2 linked regions of the Homo sapiens genome follow. The protein of the gene in region 2 interacts with the protein of the main gene of each other region in a pairwise test. Each region holds a gene or a part of one and is shown on either strand. Other genes may lie near its edges.

Region 1 (7,861 bases), on a different chromosome or scaffold from region 2:
TAAACACGGGTATGTCTTGCCACAGTGGCCATGCGTAATAAGGGATGGCTGTAACTTGGCACGGTGCTCTCAGGGACTGCCTGTAATCAGTACTGTACACATCCCTTCTTGAACCACAAGAGTCCTCCAGTGAGGGGCTCAGAAATCAGCCAGCCAGTCAACAGAGCACCTACTATGTGCCAGGGGTTATTTTAAGGGCTTGAGATGCAGCAATGGAGAAAACAGGCCACATTCCAGTGCCTATATCATTTACTTTCTAGAGAAGACAATAAACAGGTGAACGTAACAATGACAGTGATCTGTGCCCTAAAGAAACTAGCAGAGGGGCACCTGTAGTCCCAGCTACTCAGGAGGCTGAGGCAGGAGAATGGCTTGAAGCCAGGAGGCGGAGGTTGCAGTGAGCCGAGATCGTGCCACCGCACTCCAGCCTGGGCAACAGAGCGAGACTCTGTCTCAAAAAATAATTAAAAAAAAAACTAGCAGAGGGTATGACAGAGTGACAGGTAGAATGGCTACTCTAATCCAGTGGTTCTAAAAGGGTTACAGTTAACCTAAGGCAACATTTGAGCAGAGATGTGGGATTATGAAGCCAGCACTTAAAGAGACTAAGGGAAAAGGAAACCCAGCAAAGCCCCTGAGTGAGACTGCAGTTGGTGTACTCAAGCTGAAGTTAATGGCCCAGTTTCACTTGTGTGTGCAACAAGGCCGGTGGAGAGCAGGCAAGTAAGCTTGGGCCAAGGTGGGTTTTGCTGGCCTTGTCAATGAGTTTGGATTTCATTCTAAGTTCAGTGGGATGCCATTAGAGGGTTTTAAGCAAGTAGCAGCATAATTATTTATGTTGTAAAAAGATCTCCCAGACTGTTGTGAAGAGAATGAGTTTAAGGAGATGGCAGCATCATGGAGACATGCTGGAAGGCATTGTGATGGTCCCAGAATGGTGGCTGGTTAGAGATGGCACCGGAGCTGGAGAAACAGTCCCACATAGGACTTGCTGACAGATTGGATGTGGGAATTACAGAAAAAAAGGAGTCATTAACATCTTTCCTATTTTAGGCTTGAATAACTATAGGGAAAGTGATTTCCTATTACAGGGAACACTGGGAGGGACTGAAGGGCCATCAGGAATCTGTTTTAGCCACATTTCATATGAATGCCTATTAACCCTCCAAGCAGAGATGAAATATAAGCAGTTGACTGCCTCTAGAGCACAGCAGAGAAGCCAGGACTGAAGAGAGATTCATCAGATAAAGACGATACCATCCACCACAATACTGTCCCCCCACCGCCCACTAACTGTTCTTCATGACTACTCTACTGGATCCCAGCTCCTGAAGCATGAGAATCCACTGGCTGGGATGAGGACCTGAAAGATAACTACAAGAGGGACAGCCACCTACCACGTTCTACTTCCAGCCGCCGCTGCCTCTCCCGCTCCTGATCTGCCTGCACGGCCTTCATGTGCTGTAACACCTGCAAAGGAAAAGGAGGAAAGTAGTGCTCTTCATAGTCATGTTTGCTCAGGGAAGTCTCAAAAAACAGACTATTTTCAGGCTTCCAGATTATCATGGTAGCAATGTAGAACTAATAAGAGTTAGGCTGAATGTGGTGGCTCACGCCTGTAACCCCAACACTCTGGGAAGCCGAGATAGAAGGACTGCTTGAGCCCAGGAGTTCAAGACAAGCCTCGGCAACATAATGAGACCCTGTCTCTACAGAAAAATGTAAAAAATTGGCCAGGCACAGCGGCAGATGCCTGTAGTCTCAGCTACTTAGGAGGCCAAGGAGAGAGGATTACTTGAACCCAGAAGGTCAAGGCTGCAGTGAGCTGTGGTCACGCCATGGCACTCCAGTCTGGGTGAAGACTGAGACCCTATCTCAAAACAACAACCACCACCACCACCACCACCAAACTAATAGAGTTAATTGTATCTTTGTATCCTAAAATTACTGTGCCAACCTTAGTTGGAGAAGAGTGCTATGAGCCAAGGTCATTAAAACTGTCAGAAAAAAGTGAAACACAATGCCAACTCGAATCTGTAAAAAGTTCTGCCATTTACACTCACTGTCACATGCATGATTCCATATGACCCTCAGCAACAACTTGGGAACAGCATTTCCTCCAACACGCTTTCCTGACTGCCCCTCCTGTGGCTACCTTAAGTCCCCCTCCATCTACTCCTGTGGAATTCAACACAGGACATTGTAGCTACTTGCTACCTATCTGGCTTGGTCATAAGATGGCAGATTCCTTAATGGCAGGAACCGCTGTCTGGTCTGTAGGTATCACACAGGGGCGTGGCTAGCACAGAGTTTAGCTAATTGCAGGCATTCAATACATACATGAGGAATGGCTAATTCCCATTTCAAAAGGAAGAAAACCAAGACTCATAGGGTGATTTGTCCACTGCTAATGGCCAGAAAGCAGCACAGCTAAGACCTGAGCACAGTCCCCTGCATTCCTAGGGCAGAGCTTGTCGCACACACTTTCACCACATGCAGAGGAGAGCTCCGAGAGAAGCCTACACACAGCACACTTGTACTCGGCAATCTGAGCTCCCCAGATCCACATAAACTCGCTCATGGATGACCTCTAACCACACAATCACAAAGATTCTCGCTATGGTGGGTGGAGGAGGTAAAGACCTTTTCTGTTTGTATTTTTTTAAAGGTGGTATTCTTTGGCTGTAGGGGATAGAGTGTAAGCTTGGAGCCCAACGCAATCCTGACTACCCCTTATTGTATAACCTTGGCAAGTGACTTAACCTTTCTGAGCCGATTTTCTGATCGAGAAAACAGAGATAAGATATACTTCTATGGAGTGTTGTGAAGAATAAATAATATAACTTGTATTGGCTGCCTTGTATAATCTCTGGCATTATATGTGCTCAGTAAGTACTGCTGCTTATTTTCTTTACCATGTGAGTAAGAAAAAAGAAGAAAACCCAAACTATTAGCAAAAGGGTCTTGTTTTACTACTGCACTTAACAATTACATTTGAATATGCATGCGCACGAGACAGACATGTATATTCATATGTAATTCTTATTTCTAGAAAACTCCAGACACGCATACCTCCAGACAAGCACACACCCATCATAAGAAGTATTCAGGAGCAGACCAGCAAAAGGATCTCCTTTCAAAAGCCTGGTTTGGGCCAGGCGCGGTGGCTCACACCTGTAATCCCACACTTTGGGAGGCCAAGGTGGGCAGATCACTGGAGCTCAGGAGTTCAAGACCAGCCTGACCGATATGGTGAAACTCCCATCTCTACTAAAAAATACAAAAATTAGCTGGGTGTGGTGGTGTGCGCCTGTAATCCCAGCTACTCAGGAGGCTGAGGCAGGAGAATCTCTTGAACCCGGGAGGTGGAGGTTGCAGTGAGCTGAGATTGCGCCACTGCACTCCAGCCTGGACGATAGAGCGTGACTCTGTCTCAAAAAAAAAAAAAAAAAAAGAAAAAGGAAAGAAATCAGGTCTGGACCCAGAGTTAGGGCTCAGGGCACTCAGGCAGTAGAGAAGTTATGGGTCCCGTTGCCATGATTGCAGGGAGAGTGTGGAAAGTAAGAGTCCAGGGTGTTGGCTGAGGAAAAGGAGTGAGGGGAGTGGATCACCTGAGGTCAGGAGTTCAAGACAAGCCTGGCCAACATGGTGAAACCCCATCTCTACTAAAAATGCAAAAATTAGCCAGTCATGGTGGCATGCCCCTGTAATCCCAGCTACTTGGGAAGCTGAGGTGGGAGAACTGCTTGAACCCGGGAGGCGCAGGTTGCAGTGAACTGAGAGTGCGCCACTGCCCTCCAGCTTGGGTGACAGAGCAAGACCCCATGTCAAAAAAAAAAAAATTAATTATCTGAAAACACAGGCAATGCAGAAATGGGACAGATTGTCATAGTCTGGAGTCTGTGAGCTCCTGGAGGGTAAATTTTTGTCTAGCTACTCTAGTTCATAGCATACAGTAAGCACTTGATGAATACATTGAACAAATCATTTTTAAAAATTGCTTTAATATGTACCAAGCAGATTAAGACTAACCCATATACCCACCAGGGTTTAGGTCTTACCTGGTCAGAGCTAGTAAGACCTAAACTAATTCCTGCAGACAGACGACCTGATTCTGACTGGCCCAGGCCATTTCCCTACAAAGCCTAAAGGTGTGCTGCAGCTCTAGGACAGCTGTGCTAGGGACCATGGCTTTAGTTACCACATCCACTATGCTGCCTGGAGCTTTGTCTGAAAGACATATGCAAATACAAAAGGCCTTTGTACTCAATCAAAATTATTTTTGTATGTCAAAAACTGGAATATCATCAATTTCCTATGGTTCCACATATTACCTACTGAATGAATGGATGGATGGATGAATGAAAGGTGTGTATATGCTGAGGGTTTCTTGTGTCAGAGAAATGAAAGTAATGCCGACTCCTCAGGGCTCTGAGGATTGTGAGATGGTGCATGGAAAGCATCCAGGACAAGGAAAGAGTAATCAATGGTAGCTACTGTCAGCTTGCAGAACAGACATCACTCCTACAGCACCTAGTTTTCAAAAGAGGATTTCACTGATCACTTATACTGTTCTCATCTAAGGGAAAACTCTTGTCTTAGCTACTTGGTTAACTTTGTGCTTGATTTGTTGTAATAAGAGATGATACAGATGACAAGATTATATAAGAAGCCCTGAGCTAATGATAAGAAGTATCTTACTCTCTTACTCTCTACTTGAGACAGCAGAGACTCATCATTCACCCATGAATTCTAGTATTTAAAGTTAAGTCTTTTTTGTTCAACATGCACCTTAAACATAGCCAAGTTAGTCATCTGGTGCTCAGCTGAAGCAGCAGCAATCTGTTCCAAAGCTGGAGGGAAAAAGTGACTATAGTTGGAGTTATTAAGAGATAGGTGTAATGCTGTTCTTAATAGGTAGGGTACGGCACCTTCCAGGCTACTGACCACAGACAATAGTTGTCTTGCATGCTGCTTTCAGTTCCTCACTCCTATGTCAGATGACTCAACTGTAATCAAATACCAGGTCTGCCCAGGACGTGCCTGCTTACAGCTGTAACACCTTTATCATCGCTTTTATTATCAACATTCCTACGACTGTGCCTCAGAAAGGCCACAGCCCCTAACCCCCGGTACTATTAAAACAACTGTCCACACAGTGTCATGTTGCATCACGCAAGGTCCCGGCTCCTTAAGAGAGGAAGTACTGCAGTAGAGAAGGCAGTCTTGTTCTGCGACTTGCGAACTAAGTGCAGGCCAGGCATGGTGGCTCACGCCTATAATCCCAGCACTTTGGAAGGCCAAGGTGGGCGAATCATTTGAGGTCGGGAGTTGGAGACCAGCCTGGCCAACGTGGCGAAACACCATCTCCACTAAAAAATACAAAAATTAGCTGAGCATGGTAGCAGGCGTCTGTAATCTCAGCTACTCGGGAGGCTGAGGCAGGAGAATCGCTTGAACCTGGGAGGCGGAGGTTGGAGTGGGCCGAGATTGTGCCACTTGCACTCCAACCTGGGCAACAGAGCAACTCTGTCTCAAAACAAATAAAAAACAAAAAGATAAAGTAAATGCAGAAACAAAGGTCTCTGTTTGACAGGCTCATAGTGGACATATTTCACTCGGACCTGAATGCTTAACTCCACACAAAGCTCCAGGTGCCCTAGGAGGGAAAAACAGGAGGAGGAGAAATCCCAGGGAGTGTATAAGGAGCCACTGGGAGGGAGCTTGGTGCTTACCTTGTTTGCACACTGCTTACACTGCTTCTCATCCAAGCAGTCACCTGCCACCTTGGCCAGGACAGGATCCAGGGGGTTATCCTTCAGGTCCAACCACTTCAGGTTCTAAAGAGATGGGCGATGGGCAAAGAGGCTCATTAAGCCCGAGTTCACATACATAGTCCCTCAGGGTGAAACAAAATGAGCAGGAAGAATGCCCCTCTGTGTTCCACATATAGGGAGCGCCATCTGAGGCAGGACCAACAAGGGGGTATTTCTGTCAGCCTTTCTCAGGGCCGTGCTCCAGAGTCCCTGAGTTCTCTGCCACCCTGGCCATGAAACACTGGTTCATGAATTGTTACCTTGAGCTGAGCAAAGCTGACAGGCAAGGTGACCAGCTTGTTGTTGAGGAGATCCAGGTGCTGGAGGTTGACCAGACGGCCAAAGTCTGCTGGCAGCTGCTGCAGCTTGTTCTTACTCAGGTCTAGCTTCACCAGGTGTGTGAGGCCACAGAAATCCGACTAGGATCCAAAGAGAGAACCTAAGCTAGGCTTGTCCAACACACGAGCCACGACAGCTTTAAATGTGGCCCAATACAAATTTGTAACCTTTCTTAAAACATTACGAGATTTTTTTTCCTTTTTCAGCTCATCAGTGTATTTCATGTGTAGCCCAAGACAACTCTTCTTCTTCCAATGTGGCCCAGGGAAGCCACAAGATTGGAAACTCCTCATCTAAGCCTTGGGCTCACACACTTCGGTGTAACAGTCTGGAAGCCCTCAAGTCAGAGGTACCCCATGTAAAAATCCTGGCTCTACTGTTAGCAGCCGTTCTTCCTCAAATGAAAATGCAGAGAACACCTACCACACCTGGTGATAATTACCAAGATATGTATGGAAAAGGGCTTAGCACAAAGTAGGCACAAAACACTATTCCTTCACCCTCAGTTCTTGCTCCAGCCTACCCTCCACACTGCTCCTGGAGAGGTGTGGTTACCCATTCTGTCCTTCCACAGCACCCTATGCTCACCATTCATAGGATCTGTCAAAACAGCGTGCTCGTTCATTTTCTTAAAAAGATCAGGCACTCCTGGAGTACTCAGTCTGATTCTTGTTATTTGCAGCACCTAGCACAGTACTTAACACAGGTGCTCAACAGACATTCTGTGAATAACTAACTGAACGGGCTGGGGTCCATCCTACCCAAGTCCTGGCTCTTTCTCAACACAGGTCAAAACATCCCCCTGACATTAAACCTTTGCTAAGCACCCATCTGAAAGCGATGGTACAACCTCAGCTAATGAGGCACTATTCATGCTCTCTAGGGACTTGGAAATGCCAGTGGATCTGAAATGCAGAGTGAAATGGAAGTTGTCAGTACAGACAACAGAACAAGCTCAGATCGAAAAGTGCACTTGGCTGAATGACCATCTGGCAAAGTGTACAGAAGGAGTGCGGCTGCAAGGAATTGCTAACCTGCTTTTATTTTTAATTTTTTAGAGGCGGGATCTTGCTATGTTGTCCAGGCTGCTCTCAAACTCCTGGGCTAAGTGATTCTCCCACCTCAGCCTCCTGAGTTACTGGGATTATAGGCATGAACCACAGCTCCCAACATATTCTTCTTTTATTCAACACAAAATACTTTCTGGAAGAAGTGAGATCTCGATGCTTTTTGAATGTTAGAAACAGTTTTTGATGAGCTGTGACAAGGTACTGTGGACGATGAGCAAGGCCTAGGAGAATACTGAGAGGTGAGTGGACTAATAATCCAATGAGGACATTGCCAACTTCTGAATTCGACCTCTGAGCCACAGCCAGGGCCAAATAGGAAGTCACCCTGGAGTACAGCAAGGAGTGGCACGGCTAGAGTGATGGGTGGAAGTGGCAATAGCACACTTAGGCCTGACGGTGCAGGAGCACTACTATGTCAGAGAGGCTGAGGGGCTGAATGAATCCACTGTCTACACAGGTGGAGTGGAAGGAAAACTAGCAGACGTTGTGCAAGAAAAATAAAAAGGATTTGATCATGGATTGAATGTGCTGACCACATTGAGCAAATCTCAACTAATTCAAGTCCTTTGGGAGAATAATGATAAGGTAGCCCATAAAATCACCTTCTTTCTTGCTCCCCATCAAAAGATGCACAAG
Region 2 (16,816 bases):
TCTCCCAACCATGGGAAAGCACTGAAATAAAGCACTTTTCACTTAGTAGAGAATAAAACAGCATCTAATCCAACAAGTTCATAGAGTAAGATTTCCACAAACGCATCCATAAACTTCCTTGATCATGTGAAATTTCTATATATTGGTTCTCTTTCTTTTGATCCTCTTCTCAAGAAACTTCCAAACCACTTATTTTATTTTCAACTGCCTTAACTTCCTCATCCCAAATAAAGCACAAGATTTATTTATGCTTATGAAAACATGCAAGCCATAATTTACCTGCCTTACAAGCAGCAGCAAAAACTCAAATTTACAAGCCATTTTACCTTAAAACTGACTGTTCCAAAAAGGAAAAATCAAAGTAAAATATTTTAAGTGCCACCATAATTTTTCTTAATTGGTAAGAGAAATGATGATGCTATGCCATCCACGTTTATGAATCTTGTCAAATGACAAAAGAGGTTAATGTGCTCGGCATTTAAAAATTTTCCTTTTTAGATCTAGGCATGGTATTTTTCAGAAAACCCATAATGTAGTACGTCACTTTTTAAAAATGACAGCAACATGTCTTTATCATGGATTAAGCAAGTTTAAGAAATACTATTTTTAATCTCAAACAATGCACTGAAAGTGAGTCTTAATTTCAGAGTTTTATTGTATTGCACTAAAGGAACAGCAGGATGGTTATACAATTTTCTCTCATTCAGTTTTGAAAATCTGTAGTACCTGCAAATTCTTAAGAATACCTTTACCACCAGATTAGAACAGTAAGCATAATAACCAATTTCTTAATAAGTAATGTCTTACAAATAAAAACACATTTAAAATAGCTTTAAATGCATTCTTCACAAGTAATTCAGCATATATTTTTATATCATGTTTACTTATGCTTAAGAATTAAAGCAAGTATATTTATTACTCTGATGGAAATATGGGAAATCTCTCATTCATGCAATATACAGGGATAATATTCAAGCGAAGGGAAAATTCCCGCTTTTTATTTTTGTAAATGTATCCATATATAATCATCGACATGACAGATGAGGAAACCCATGAAGTTTCCCACTAGTCAGATATACATTTTCACTTCATCAGAAGCACCTGATATCTACAGCTAATTTATAATTAGATACTGTTTCAATGAAACCAAAATGAGCCCTACAAGTTCCTATAAACAAAAGCTTCCAATGTACTAGGACAGTCAGTAATTAATGCATCATTCAGAGGATTATGGCTGTTCCTTAAGAAGTGCAAGTTCAAACCTGTCAACACCAGAGGTAATCATTTTATATTAATTTATACGTAATACCATTTAAAATCTTTATCTGAGTATAACATATGAAAACAGTCTTTCCACAAGCAAAAATGTGGAAACATTTAAAAAATAAGGAGTCATTTTTTAAAGTAACTGATCAGATTCCACAGGCTACTCTTGGACAGGATCTTGCTGGATAGAATCCCTTCATTTGGTGGCTTTTTGCATGCACTTAACTGGACCAATTCTTCTGTGTGTTGTTCTAAGAGCTCACCAAAACATAGATCATGCTGAAAAGAAGAAAAAAGATGTTAATTTGAACATTACTAATTATTAAAAAAAAACTCAGAGCATGAGAGAGTATGCTTTATATAGCAAACTAGTATCACAGAAAATGACAAGACTAATGACAAGTTCACAGTGATTTTAATTTGCATTTATGGACTTTTGCCTAACATATGACTTGGCTCAGTGCATATGCTGTAGTTGTCCCCTATTCCCTTCCAATTTTAGCAAGTAGAACGGCACAGCTGAAAGCTTAATGGCGGATCAGAGCTTAGAGAAGCCATCCAAACATCACACACTCTGGAGTTGTGTCTAATAATAGAATGAGTATCTCTGGAGGGCTCACTTCACGCCAGGCCCTGTTAGGTCTCTTATATACATTACCTTGCTTAATCCTTCAAGGAGTCCTAGAAGGCAGGTACCATGTGTATCCCCATTGTATAGAAAGGAATGATCAATCAAGGATCTTTCCCATTACAGAAAGGATCTAAGCAATAGCAACTTTTAGGAAGTGGTTAAAAAAGAAAAGGGGGGAAAACAGCAAAATAAAAGGCAATGACCTTTTGATTTAGGTTTAAGAACTGCCAAGGGCAATTCTACAGAGTGCTATGGGAACGGCATAGGGGCATGATTCAAAAAGCACATAACTCTAAACAGAAATACAAAGGAGTTGAACAAGCTTGATAGACAACCTTAAAACACAACAAATGTCCTGGTGCTACCATATCCTGCTGAACATTTTCCCACAACTGCACATCTCCAACTTTATCATTTATTCAATCATTCATTTCATTTCTTTCATTCAACAAATACGTATGAAGTGCCTATCATACACCAGCCCGTTCCAGACATTTGCTATGGAAACTTATGAAATGAAAATTAACAGGAAATTAAAGTGACACATAGAATTTCACTTTTCAGAGCACTTCTTTGTTTCATAGATGAGTAATATCTGCATATGCACTAAAGGATACTCATTTTCACAGTAATAGCCTCTAAAGGCATAAAAATACCAAAAATACCTTTTTCCTAAATTTCAGTCTAACCATTCATCTTTTCTATGATGGAAACTTATGTATGAAGAGAAATATGAATATGAATATAAGCCTATCTTAGCAAGTTTTCAAGTAATGAAAAAGAGAAGGGAAGCTTATGCTGTTTTTTAAAGCTTACAGCTTTTTTGGAAATATTCTGAAAATCAAGGAGAAAGTCCTCTCTAGTTGAGTATGTATTAATAAAAAATGAGAAAGTATTTTATATAAGTGATGTGTAAAAGTATATTCACATAGCTTAAAGAAATATATAATTCTACATTTAACAGTGTCCTTTTCTAGTTTTAATAAGCAGTCATTTCACTGCACCTACAACACACCTACAGCAGTGGTTCTCACCCAGGGCAATTTTGCCCCTCAGGACATCTGGCAATGTCCAGAGACATTTTTGGTTGTCATGAGGGGGCAGGAGGGTGCTCATGGCAACTAGTGGGTAAAGGCCAGGGATGCTGCTGAACGTCCCATGATATACAGGACAGCTTCCCACAGAAATTCCCACACAGCCCAGAAGCGTCAACAGTGCCGAAGCTGAGACACCCTGACCTAGAGGAACAATGAGTCCATGAGAGTATAAAAGGAAAAAAATCAGGCTGGGCGCGATGGCTCACGCCTGTAATCCCAGTACTTTGGGAGGCCAAGGTGGGCGGATCACCTGAGGTCGGGAGTTCAAGACCAACCTGGCCAACATGGTGAAACTCTGTCTCTACTAAAAATACAAAAATTAGCCGGGCGTGGTGGTGCACGCCTGTAATCCCAGCTACTCAGGAGGCTGAGGCAGGAGAATTGCTTGAACTTGGTGGGGCGGAGGTTGCAGTGAGCAGAGATCGCGCCACTGCACTCTAGCCTGGGCAACAGAGACTCCGACTCAAAAAAAAAGAACAAAAATCGGAAACTGCACCACCCTGTAAGGTAGAACTACTTCTTTCATTCATACCACTCAAATCAAGCAAATCAGAAAATAAAGGGCAGAGCACACCACTTATGAAGAATGATAAGGAAAAAATGAAACATAATGTCTGGAGAGACCCTGAAGACAAGCAGAAATTTCTGCAAACTCACACATCCCTATCCTTCAATGACATCACTTTGCCATGGAGAATGAGGACCATCCTTTACTGACTGAATGTGTCTGAAAACTTATGAAGCAGCATCCCTGACCAAACCTTCTGCCTCTGATGGCAGGCTGGTTTACTGCCTTGACAAGCACCAGTGTGGGCCACACTGAATGTGTGCGAATTTGCTGGTGTGCACCATGCACACTTAAGACACTAAGTTATTCTTCAAATGGATTTTGAGGTGTGAAAACCATAATGCCTGCAAACTTTTAAAGCAGCAAAGTGAAAGCATATTTCATTTTACCTTTTCAACTTACCCATATAGGTAGTAAAAAAATGCTAGAAGATAAAAAGCTAATTTGCACCATCCTTCCTTCTGACAATATGCTAGAATATCTGCATTCATGATGGTTGTAGGGTCATAGAGTCCTGGGCCACTCATCACTGGTCTACTCATATACCTGGAATAAACACAGTCTATTAGGCATTCAGAAAGGGCAGTAAATGTTCAGATAAGAAAGCAGGTCTTTCTTCTAAAACATCTGTTACGAGAGGTGGTCCATAAAGGGAAGCATTCTTTTACTTATGGGTAAAATGCTTTCCTTTTACCATCTTAATTTTAAAAGTAGAGCCCCTAAATGAGCAGAATGAGATAGCTAAACAAGTTTCTTCTAGTCTCTGCCTTTTCAGAAATCCATGAAAAATAGGAAGAACTGTAAAAAGAAAATAGGTGTTTTGTTTTTACTTATCTTGGCATAATTTTAGACTTACAGAAAAGATACAAGAACCTTTCACCCAGATATTCCAAATGTCCATTTTTACTATATTTGCTTTCTCCTTCTCTTTCTCATTCTGAGTACTGGTTTTTTTTGGTTTTTTGTTTTGTTTTTTTGTTGTTGTTGTTTTGAGACAGGGTCTTACCCTGTAACCCAGGCTGCAATATAGTGGTGCAATCTTGGCTCACCACAATCTCAGATTCCTGGGCTCAAGCAATCCTTCTGCCTCAGCCTCCCAAGTAGCGGGGACTACAGGCACACGCCACCATGCTTAGCTAATTTTTTTTGTAGAGGGGGGTTTTGCCACGTTGCCCAGTCTGTTCTCCAACTCCTGGGCTCAAGTGATCCACCTGCCTCAGCCTCTCAAAGTGCTGGGATTACAGACATGAGCCACTGTACCTGGCCCTGAGTAAATTTTTTTTTTTTTGAGACAGAGTCTTGCTCTGTTGCCCAGGCTGGAGTGCAGTGACACGATCTTGGCTAACTGCAAACTCTGCCTCCCAGCCTGAAGCAATTCTCTGCCTCAGCTTCCCAAGTAGCTGAGTTTATAGGCGCCCGCCACCACTACTGGTTAATTTTTGTATTTTTAGTTGAGACAGGGTTTCACCATCTTGGCCAGGCTGGTCTTGAACTCCTGACCTTGTGATCCACCCACTTCGGCCTCCCAAAGTGCTGGGATTACAGGCGTGAGCCACTGCGCCCGGCCAAGTACATTTTTTTCTGAATCATTTCAAAGTCCATTGTAGACCTGATAACACTTTACTTCTAAATACTTCTTCAGTATATGTCTCCTAAAATCAAGGGCAATAAGGTTTTGACATGCCTATTTAAAACAAAAACTTCTAACTCTATATACGGCAGATATTACTATGGAAGTTATAAAATATTATCTTTTACAAATAACCAAAATTAGTCATAAACACAGAAAGAAATTAGACACATACTGTACATTTTGACTTACCTGAAGTTCAAGGACAAGCAAAGCTAATCTAAGTTGATAGAGGTCAGTGGTCTTGGGAGGTGTGGAGGGTAACTGACTTAAGATGGGGCATAAGTGAATGCTCTGGAGGCTACAACTGTTGTGTATCTTGATCTGGGTGGTAGTTTAACAGGTGTATACGTATGTAAAAATTCATTGAGCTATATACTTCAGACTTGTGCACAACACTAAGTTATACTTCACTTTTTAAAAAAATTCCTTTAAAAATAAAGTAAGCTCTATATGAGGTATTGAAATAGTTTTTGTTCACCCACTTGATTTTTAAAAAAATAAATGCCAACTGATCTTCCATTTTTATGTAGGTGACTAGCATGTAAGATAACCATATCAACCACAGTATATTTAAGTTTTAATTTAAAAAAATATTAAAAGTGTATCTAAATATTACCTCCAAATATGATATGCCAAGAGGGGCATATTGAGACCCAGTGTAAGCCACTCTGCTGCACAAAGAAACATGACACAGAAGAAAGCGTGGATGAGGTACTCTGGGAGTACAAGCTGGAAGGAAAACACAAGCCAGTTATCAAAATGCCTCAGCATTAAGTCAACTACTAATCTGGAAAGCAGGTGGCAACCAAGTTTCCATAATGAAAAATCACTGTTTTCTTAGACTCAGAAATAAAAGATGCTACTGAGTTTTATTTCCATGTTTAACTTTTTACCAAAAGTAGGATTACAGGCAAACTGACCAGAGCATATAGCTTGCACTAACATAGTAAGATACATGACTTAAAATTCAAAGCTCAAATCCTTAGAGAAACAGATCAAATTATATAAAGTTACCACCCAGATTGTTAAACAATATGCTAGTCAACTAGAATACTTTTTCTTTTCACCATTCAACAATGATAGAAGTACAAAAATGAGATATCTGATCACATGCAACATATTAAAAATTCCACAGAAACAAAACTCCCCTTTGGAATTTTACATATCAGTGTTTTTAAGCCTTTAACAAAAACCAGAAATGCTACATACACAATATTTAGCAAACCACATTGCATTCCCACAGAAGTAATTTTTTAATGGAAAGCCAATCAGCCAATAATCTCAGCACAGTGAGGGGAAGAACACTAATATGCGCAAATGTAAAAGATTCGCTTTCTGCAATGTAGGAGGGAAAAGACTGAGTTCTTAACCATGAAATTAAGATTTTCCAGGTTCCCAAGTTCTCATTCTTAGGTGGCCTTTCCGTTTCTTTACCCCTGCTTGCCAACAAAATGCTACAGACACAACAGAAGACCAGTAGAAGCTCAGAACCCAAAAACAAAATAAACCTTTTGGTACTAGGTAATATTAAGTGAAGAAAAATTAATTCGAGCAAAATGCTTTTTATAAAATGACCAGGAGTTAATGCTTTATGTTAAATTATCTTTCTCATCCTAAAGATTTCAGCCTGAGGACTTTGTTAAATAAAAATACCAAAACCTCTCATTGCAAGTTTCAGCCGAAGTATCTCCTGTAAGTCACAGCTACAAAGCCAGTTTCTCAAATGTTTACTTCATACCAAATGGAAATCATATGAATACTTATCATCATCAGATCACTCCTGAGGGGAAACCATGGCTGTAGATATTGTAATCACACTACATACTCAGACCCATTTTCTCATACTCCCAAATTACTCTTTCCAATTTAAAGCTGTAGAGGGGACTTTCTAATGAATACTATTTTTAAAAAAAATCCAGGTAAACAACTCATCTACACCACTAACCAAATATTTTCTACAAACTTAAGCAATACAATAACAAAGGATAAACTCGGCATATGTACCTAAACTTCTAAATAACATTTAAGCCAGCATCTATTTAAGATCAAAGTTCTCTAAACAAGAAAAGGGCCATAGGACTCTGAAACTCAAGGACTATAACCAGAACAAACCAAGAAAAATATACATTTTATTAAGAATTCCACTAGAGTTGCTTTTATAATACTTGTTTAAATTACAGACGTTGTCTTTAAAATATAAGCCTATTTCAGCCCTAAAAAGCCATCTGATACCTAACAAACAAATCCTCATGCAAGGTTTTATCCTACACTTACAGAATGAAGTATGGAAAGAATGATTTTGAAAGCATGAACCCCTCCCGCTCTTAATATTACTTTAATAAAAGTGTTAATAAAGATAATCTACAACTCTACCAGTTCTAATATGAAACAATGCCATTCCCTCCCTTCTCCTCAAAAGGAGTCCAGAAACATTTACTACCCATCTCTCTTAAAAACCAACCCTCTCCGAGCATTCTTTAATGACAAAATTTCCCCATAAGAGACACAAAAATTATTCAATTTAGGAACCAAGGTTCAAACAGAAACTAGTATCCAGAAAAAAAACCTCAAGCAAATATGGCTGAAATGATAACATTTAAACATGCAAAATATAATATTCTCTTGTTAAAGTTCACAATTTAAAAAATAGTGATATTTGTCTTCCCCCATACTTTGGCAGAACTGTCAAAACAAATTTAAATAGGGAAAACTGTCAGATGCACTGCTATTCAGCCAATTATTGGCACCCTATCCAAAAGGCAACCTGTGCTGCTATAAAAACGTCCTTCAACCTCCTGCAGCATTAGGATGTCCCAAGCACATGTCTCTTCTCAGTGAGAATTTCTTTCCGTTAAGAAAAGCCAGGAATCGCACATTACCTGTTAAAATGAAACCTGTCCCTCCTAAATTTACAATACATTAGGAAAATACAAGAACTTGAGCTTCAAAAATTAGGCTGTCTTGAGTTCAAGTTCTGACTCTATCTTAGCTGTATAACATTCGGCAAAGTGCTTTAACCTGGCAAAGCTTCAGTTTACTCTCCTATTCATGAGATAACAATTTACCTACCTCAGGATTGTCATGAGAATTAAATTTAAAAATTCAGGCAAAGTGCTTACCACAGAGCCTAGCACCCAGGAAAATCCTCATCTGATTTCAAATATTTTTACCTTCATCATCATTTGGTTATTGAAGTAATGAAAAGACAAACAGCACAGAATACTATTAATAAACAGCTATCAAAAGGGGAAATTTCAGTTTCTTCATTTCCTGGTAACAACTTCAACTACTTAGGTTAAGATGTTTTAAAATTAACACTTAATGCTTTCCAAGAGAAGGCAAATTCATCTTCTTATGTCTTGTTTCATAAGAGCAAAGAAACAGCTAATAAGTTAATACTTTTAATTGTACCTACATCAACTCTTACTGTAACAGTTCTCTAAAGACAAACTAGAAATCTCTTCCACCATCCACATTTATCTGGGAAACAATAATAAAGTACCAAACTAACTTTCTAGATGCTTTTCCAAATAAAATCCCTCTAGCACCTAGTGCTAGTACACTAGTATGCTAGACAATTAAAATCTACACAAACTCTCCCCTTCGTTAAGTAATTTTTAAAGCTGAATTACTGTATTTTATTTCTTGAAGACATACCCACTGCTTTCTTATAAACAACCAACCTTTCAATTACTGACCAGTCAGGCAAAATCAAATACACAGGCTAAAAGAGTATCTTCCTAAATGCAGGCAAAAATACAAAAAAACAAACTGGGTACCCTGGTGTGTGCCTGTAATCCCAGCTACCCAGGAGATTGAGGCAGGACGATCACTTGACCCAGGAGTTTGATAAGAGCCTGGGCAATATAGAGACACCCCCATCTCAAAAGAAAATTTAAAAATACATACATATATATTTTTTCAAAAACCCTAAGCACAATGGAGCTACATTATCACTAAATTCATGATGGCTCAGAACTCAGTGTAATTCAGGCCTGTTTTAGAAACAGAAAGTAGATACACACTAGAAATAACCACATAGACATTTGTATACAAATTGTTATCTACAAAATTATGGCACCCTAAGTCCAAAGAATGGCATTGCTGCGAGATCCCAGAGCCCCCAGAACAGAGCTATCCACCTAACAGGCTCTGAATAAACATCAGCTGAAAGAATGACTCATTTATTCCAGAATATGCAAACCAAAGATAAAACTAGATATGGCAGATAAGTCCATACTAAAGATTTCACTCACATACTACCTCACAATAAGTCACAACCCGAGAATCATCTCACCATCTATTAGTCATTTTATGTTAACCAACTTTCAAGTACTACACCAAATAATTTCACATAGAAGTGCCTATGGCTATAACATAAAAAAACGCATACGCATTTAACAGCTTTCCCTACTTGACTGGGCCAGCAAGCATATATTTGCATAAAATATGAAATTTCATGAAATCATAAACCTCAACAGGCATATGAACGAGCACACTGAACAAAACGTTACAAATACAAATGCCCTAACCCTCCCCATGAAATGAATATAGCATTAAAACATTTAACTAAAAAGCAGTACACACCTTTAATGCAATTTTGACTCTTTTAATCTTTTTGACCTTTTCAACTGTCTTTGGCCGACAATGTAAAAAGCAGATTGGAAGAATGTTAGTATGACAGCTGACAAGATCACCAGCAGATTAATAATAGAATAGTCAAGCACGACAGGAAAAAGAAGATTTTTTAAATTCTGCCTACTTCAAAAAGTACAAATATATTATGCTACTCAGAATACTGGCCATTTTCAAATTACTTCAAGTTAAAAACAAACATATTTTTAAAATCTAAAGATAAATCCTATATTATAACTTACGGGATTCAGGGTATTACACTGGTCTATAGGATTCTTGTAATCAGTCTTCAGCTCATCAAATGCTATAATCTAAAATAAAATTAAAACAGTTAGGACCACTCACTTTAATTAAAAGCAGCAACAAACCTGCCCCATCTTCAAATAATTATTAAAGTTAATAAAACAAGAACAAAAGTACACCAAGATCCCAAATACCAATTTACAGTAAACTCATATATGACAAAAAGAACCAGAATGCGATTTAAAGTGAAAACACTCTTATCTCAGTATCACTAAAATTTGGTATTACTGTAATAAATACCTTCAATTTTCAATTTCGTCAATGCCTCTGCTCAAGTTATTTCAACTTATCTCTACTCGAAATAATCTTCTGAGTAGAAAAATAATTTCAACTGTTTATCCAAATTCCTCTTTATCCTAAAAAAAAAACAAACCTTCCTAGGTCAACTTCTTTCTGCAGGCTTTCCTAACTCCTTTGGGCAGAAGTAATTGCCCACATCTCCACACAGCATGGGACTCTATAATGCCATCGATATGGCTTTTCTCACCCTGGAGTGTGGTATTTACACACAGGTCTGTCTGCCCCTCTACACTCTCAGGGAGAAGGACCATTTTTATTTATCTGTGCATGCTCCTCCTCCCTTGGCACAGTGCTCAGTGGGACACTAGAGATGGATTCGAACTCTTCAATGTGTTCCCATTGGTGCCCAAACACATACATTTGTAAGGATGCTTTTGTCCACACTCTGGAGGAATGTGGCTTCAACCTCAAGGGTCACTAGAATGTACATTAAGAGTCAAAATAGGGACTCTGCACCACTTTGTGGCATCATTTCAGGTGACAAAGAAAGAAAACAAAGGCAGCAAGTTGATGGGGGAGCCATTTTAGTTGCTAACACTACTCACCCCAGGGACACACAAACTAAGCTACCCTTCCCTTAATGAGTTAGGAATAGTATCTTTATATGTGAAAGTGTTGCTCAATATTATCAGTAATCAGTAAAGTTACATATTTCCATCTTTTAACATGACTGTTTATTTCCCTGTTAAAATTTAGATTCATAAAAAGACGGTTTTTTTAATTTCTAGAGTTCCATAAAATTCACCCACCTGCCCTAATAAAAACTCCAACCAAACAACAATAGAAGGAAAATAATAAAACATTAGAATGTAATCTCTGAAAGAACAAAGATTGTTGTATTTACTATTATGTCCCAGGGCCTAAAATATAAAATAGTGCCTGGCACATAGTTAAGTGTTCAATAAATATTAACTGGAAGGAGGGGGTGAAAAAAATAGCACTAGGGATTAAAAAAAAAAAATGCAGAACTCACCAGGGGGATTTCCCTTGGCTAATGACACCTAACACAAATGTTAAAAACATACATGTGTAATTAGAAAATACTAATTTCTGATTACTTATGGACGTTATTAGTCTGCTACTTGACGTCAGCCGTGGTATATAACCCCAATGCATTTTAGTAATAAAGCTCAAGACAAGGATGATAATCATAAGTACTTGTCTATAACAAGATCCAACTTAACAGAATACAAAACTTGTCTTTAAAACTGACATTTAATTGGACATTTTCTCCAGGTGACTTCAAGGGTTTTTTTTTTTTTTTTCTTGAGACAGGGTCTTACTCTGTCACCCAGGCTGGAGTGCAGTGGCACAATCTCGGCTCACTGCAACCTCCACCTCCTCGGCTCAAATGATTCTCCTGCCTCAGCCTCCGGAGTAGCTGGGACTACAGGTGCATGCCACCATGCCTGGCTAATTTTTGTAGTTTTTGTAGAGATGGGATTTTACCATGTTGCCCAGGCTGGTCTCAAACTCCTGAGCTCAGGTGATCCACCTGCCTTGGCCTCCCAAAGTGCTGGGATTACAGGAATGAGCCACTGTGCCTGGTCACAGGGATTTTTTAACTATGTTGTTGAATGGGTTTCTCTTTGAGTGCTATAGGCTAGGGTTTTCGAACCTCTTCTGAGAATATTCTTAATGATTTTCAAATCTTTTTGCAGCTATGTGGCTGAGCAAAGACACCCACAAAATTTCCTACAGAAGTATAACAAAAATAAAACAGATAAATCCCTAAAGATGCCCAAGTACACAATTCAGAATACCTTCCAATTTAATACACATCTTTAAGGAATGACTTTTAAGCTTTTAATTTTTCAAACAATCTATGCTCCCGACTCTATTCTCCACAGAGCATCAATGACATGAATTAGGACTAAATTGACAGATATAATCATCAGCATAAAAAACATTCTCTAATACAGTGATTAATGTAAATAAGATTTTTGGAATGTAATTTAAAAATTGTAAAATGAGTCTTCTGAAAGATACTTCAACTACCTGCTAGAGTTTGGTTTAACTCCTCCAAATCTCAGGTTGAAATCTGATCCCCAATGTTGGAGGCGGGATCTAACGGGAGGTGTTTGGGTCATGGGAGCAGATCCCTCATGAATGGTTTGGTGTCATCTTGGAGGGAATAAGTGAGTTCTCCTGCCATTAGGACCCAAGAGAACTGGCTTGTAAACAGCGCCTGGCACCTCCCCCTCTTTTTCCTTTGCTTTCTCTCACTATGGGATCTCCACACACTACTCCCCCACCATGAGTGGAAGCAGGCTGAGACTTTCACCAGATGCCCAGTCTTATAGTCAGCAGAATCCTGAGGTAAATAAACCTCTTTTTTCTTTGTAAATTACTCAGCCTCCCGTATTCCTGTATAGCAACACTATAAACACTATAAAGGAATGGACTAAGATACTACCTAAGATGATAAACATAAGGTTATATGGGTAATAGAAAAATTAAAACTATCTATTTATTTAGAATTGTTTCCAAAAGGATACTAATTCTCTGAATGAAGAAATCCCTAAGCATAAAAGCTCTCCACGAATCTGCGGTATAATTTTTTTTTCATTGTATAACACGACTTAAAATTATTTACTTCACCCAGACACGCATTTGTTTAAGCTGAAATTACCCATTTTTTGAAAGTGCGGTTCAGGTTTTCCTTAAGCCAAACACAACCTGGTTCAAAACGTAAAAATGTGAAAAAGCCTACCCCACCACTCTAAGAATCCCCATCATCCCAGAAAAAAGGAATACCCATCAAGCAGAATGACTTAAAGCTACATCTACAGATGGAATGGAACCACACACTTTCTTTCTTTCTTTTTTTTTGTTTTTTTTTTGAGACGGAGTCTCCGCCCAGGATGGAGTGCAGTGGCGCCATCGCGGCTCACTGCAACCTCTGCCTCCTGGGTTCAAGTGATTCTCCTCCGCCTCAGCCTCCCGAGTAGCTGGGATTACAGGCGCCCACCACCATGCCCGGCTAATTTTTTTGTATTTTTAGTAGAGACGGGGTTTCACCATGTTGGCCAGGCTGGTCTCGAACTCCTGACCTCGTGATCCTCCCGCCTCGGCCTCCCAAAGTGCTGGGATTACAGGAGTGAGCCACCGCGCCCGGCCATGGAACCACACATTTTCATCAGAGGCCTACTAAGGTTGAGCTAGTCTGTATCCCAAATTATCTTAGGTATTGTTCTTCCATCAAAGCAGGGCTGAAGATGCTCTTCAAATTACTGCTCCTACTGACAAGCATTCTGAGGTAGCAGTTATTTCCGACACAGTTAATAGCCTACATAAGTATTCCTGATTACAATAAGCAGTCAGGTCCTAAAATAATTGTAAACATAATCACACTGCTTAGCAAAAAGGAATGGATTTGTGATATGCTTCCACTTTCGAGACTTTTTTGCACAAGACGCTGCTGCTGTTTAATCATTCTGCCCCTCCGTATGTTTCATAGAAATCCTTGTTACTGGCATGATGAAACCTGACTTAAAATCTACGTAAGAGTGAACGCGGTCATTCAAATTAAAAGCAACATTCCAGAAGGCACTGGAATATGGGGAAAAGAGAAGCAAGTATGAGATAAATTTTTAATGAATGATTTCCAGAAGGCTCTCAAGGCTTTTAATTTTGTGCTAAAGCAACAGAAATTCTTATCTCTGTAGAACTATGTCACAGGGAACTTACGACTTTTTCCTTAGAGGGACCAGTAAGGCTGTGCTTCCACCCTGCAATAGTGATGATGATGTGTGTAACAGAAATAAATACTGCCCCAGAAAAGCTTAAGGTTTCTGAGCATCTCAAAATCAAATGAAAACTCCCTCTACTAAATCAAGCAATCCTGAATATAAGGGTGGCTTGGAAAGCTGCCTGTTGAAACTCCAGCGGTCAAAGTATGATTTGGGGGGGAAACGCGCACATGCAATCAACAAAGTAATCAATTGAACTTGCATCAAAGTTCACCAGGAAACAACAATCTGGAAAAAGAGAAAAAAAGTGATTTGATTTGAAGAGCACCGAACAAGTGCTGAAAAGTAGAGTTGGAAATTCACCCTAAGTAGGTTACATTTTGGCCACAGTTCTGTGGAAACCCTAAAAGAAAGTCAATCTGTATTAACAAAAATTCGGAAAACTTCATTCACACTACGGCCGTCCCACCGCGCTGTCGACATCCTCCCCGGGAATGCAGGGCCGCGGGCCGGCAGAGGTCGGTGCGAACGCAGCGCGGAACCGCGGGCGCCCGCCTGGACCGCGGCCGCCCCATCCAGTAGGGGAGGAGTAGCGGTGCGCGCGGCCTGTGCCGAGGCAACGCGGGCGCGTCCACCTGGCGACTGCGCGCCCCGGCTCCTCCAGTACCCGCGGCCCCCAGACCCCTCGCCGCGCGGCCCGTGCCAGCCGGGCCGCATCCCCGACGCGCAAAGCCCCGGCGGCCGTGGCGGCCCGGACCGCGGGCCCGGGGCGAAAAGAGGCTGTGTTGCCGCCTCGCCCTCCTTTCCCCAGCCCCAGCTACTCACGTGCCAAATGGCGAAGAAGATGAGCGCGGCAGTGAGCAGCAGCGCCAGCATGTAGCAGAAGGCCGCGAACGTGAACGCCATGGCTGGGGAGGAGGAGCGGGGAGCGGCGCCGTTGCCAGCGGAGAAAGGCGGCGCAGGGCCCTCTGGGTAAAACCATTCACTTCCCCCGGCCACAGCCGCGACCGCCACCGCTACCGCCGCGGCGCCAGCCCTCTCAGCGCGCCTGCGCACCAGCCCAGCCGCCCCGGCGCCCTCTGATGGCCGGAGTCTGCGTTGCACTGACATTGTCCGCACAGTTGTTGATTGATTTTTCCTTCCTTCTTGCGTTTATTCTTTCAACAAATATTTATTGAATGAATGCCTAGTTTGTTACAGGTACCGCGCTTCTCGCTTCAGATACAAAGATGAATAAGATAGTACCTGCACTGAAAGAACTTAGTATAGTGCCGGAAATGAACACCTAAATAAATAATTACGTTATTATAACCCCGTAAACGGATGTGTGTGGGATGCTCTGAAAGGTCAAAGAAGGACAGCCAGCCCGCCCTGGAGCATTTAGGCAGGATTCCTGCTGTAGGTGTTTCCTAAGTTGGCCTTAGATGATGATAAGTTCTCCAGGCAAAAAGAAGGTAGAACTGGCAGTCCAAGGAAACAGTTCAGAATGAGGAAACGCAACAGAGATGGAAAAAAGAAAAGAAAAATAAAGCTTCGTGTCTCAGGTGAAACCAGCAGCAATTCTGTATTAATGGAACCTAAGTGCAAGACAGTGGTGAGACTTAGAAATGAATTAGCAAGGGATCAGATCATAGAGGGCCTTATAATGCTTCATTACGGAGCTCAGACTTCTTATCCCATAAGCCCAAATTTTTTGCTCACCACACACAACTAGAAAGATTTTTTTCATTGCAACCCAGTGGAATATCATACAGACATCAAGTTATGAAGAGGTGGAAATCTAGTTATAGAGGCAAAGAAATATAGATATGACCAAAACAAAAATTTCACAAAACTGTACTAATGATCCATAAGTACTTTCCCTTCTCTCTTTTGCTACTTGTTTTTAATGCTGGTCTTAACACACAAAATTGATTCAAAATTGATTTAACTTTCCATTACAACCATTTTTAAAAGAAAAAAACTCTATTAACTGATTGCTGCTGATGGAAGAGAAAATCATTGAAGGCTTTTGAGCAAAAGAAGACCATGTTTAGATTTGCATTAAAGATCGTTCACCTAGCAAATTGCGTAGAATAGTTTAGAAGCAGGGTCTGTCCAGTGCTGTGCAATAGAACCTTCTGTGATGGTGAAAATTTTCGATACCTAAACATTGCCCAATACAGTAGCCACTAGCCACATGTGGCCATTGGGCACTTGTAAATTGTCTAGCATGACTGAGGAACTGAACTTTAAATTTCACATCACTTTAAGTAAAATGTGGCTAGTGTATTGGACAGTACAACCTGTACCACCAGGATTATGTGGCACCTGTGTGCAAATTATCAAGTTACTTTTGGCCAGGCACAGCAGCTCATGCCTGTAATCCTAACACTTTGGGAGGCCAAGACAGGAGGATCACTTGAGCTCAGGAATTCAAGACCAGCCTGGACAAGGTAATGAGATCTTGAGAGGTGACAGCGTGCTGGCAGTCCTCACAGCCCTCCCTCACTCTCGGCGCCTCCTCTGCCTGGGCTGCCACTTTGGCGGCACTTGAGGAGCCCTTCAGCCCACCGCTGCACTATGGGAGCCCCTTTCTGGGCTGGCCAAGGCCAGAGCCAGCTCCCTCAGCTTGCAGGGAGGTGTAGAGGAAGAGGCGCGAGGGGTAACCGGGACTGCGCAGGGTGCTTGCGGGCCAGCTGGAGTTCCGGG

What was found.
Region 1: the proteins of CNIH1 (region 2) and LRRC59 interact in binary tests that used the Homo sapiens proteins (3 or more experiments, as listed by UniProt).

Annotation. Positions count from the first base shown.
Region 1 is NC_000017.11:50,386,663-50,394,523, forward strand, and holds part of LRRC59 (leucine-rich repeat-containing protein 59), read right to left. Parts: intron 6,236-7,861; coding exon 6,077-6,235; intron 5,841-6,076; coding exon 5,736-5,840; intron 1,471-5,735; coding exon 1,398-1,470; intron 1-1,397.
Region 2 is NC_000014.9:54,426,297-54,443,112, forward strand, and holds the start of CNIH1 (protein cornichon homolog 1), read right to left. Parts: upstream 15,079-16,816; 5' UTR 15,032-15,078; coding exon 14,951-15,031; intron 10,142-14,950; coding exon 10,073-10,141; intron 5,925-10,072; coding exon 5,812-5,924; intron 4,109-5,811; coding exon 3,965-4,108; intron 1,546-3,964; coding exon 1,518-1,545; 3' UTR 1-1,517. UniProt on the Homo sapiens protein: Involved in the selective transport and maturation of TGF-alpha family proteins.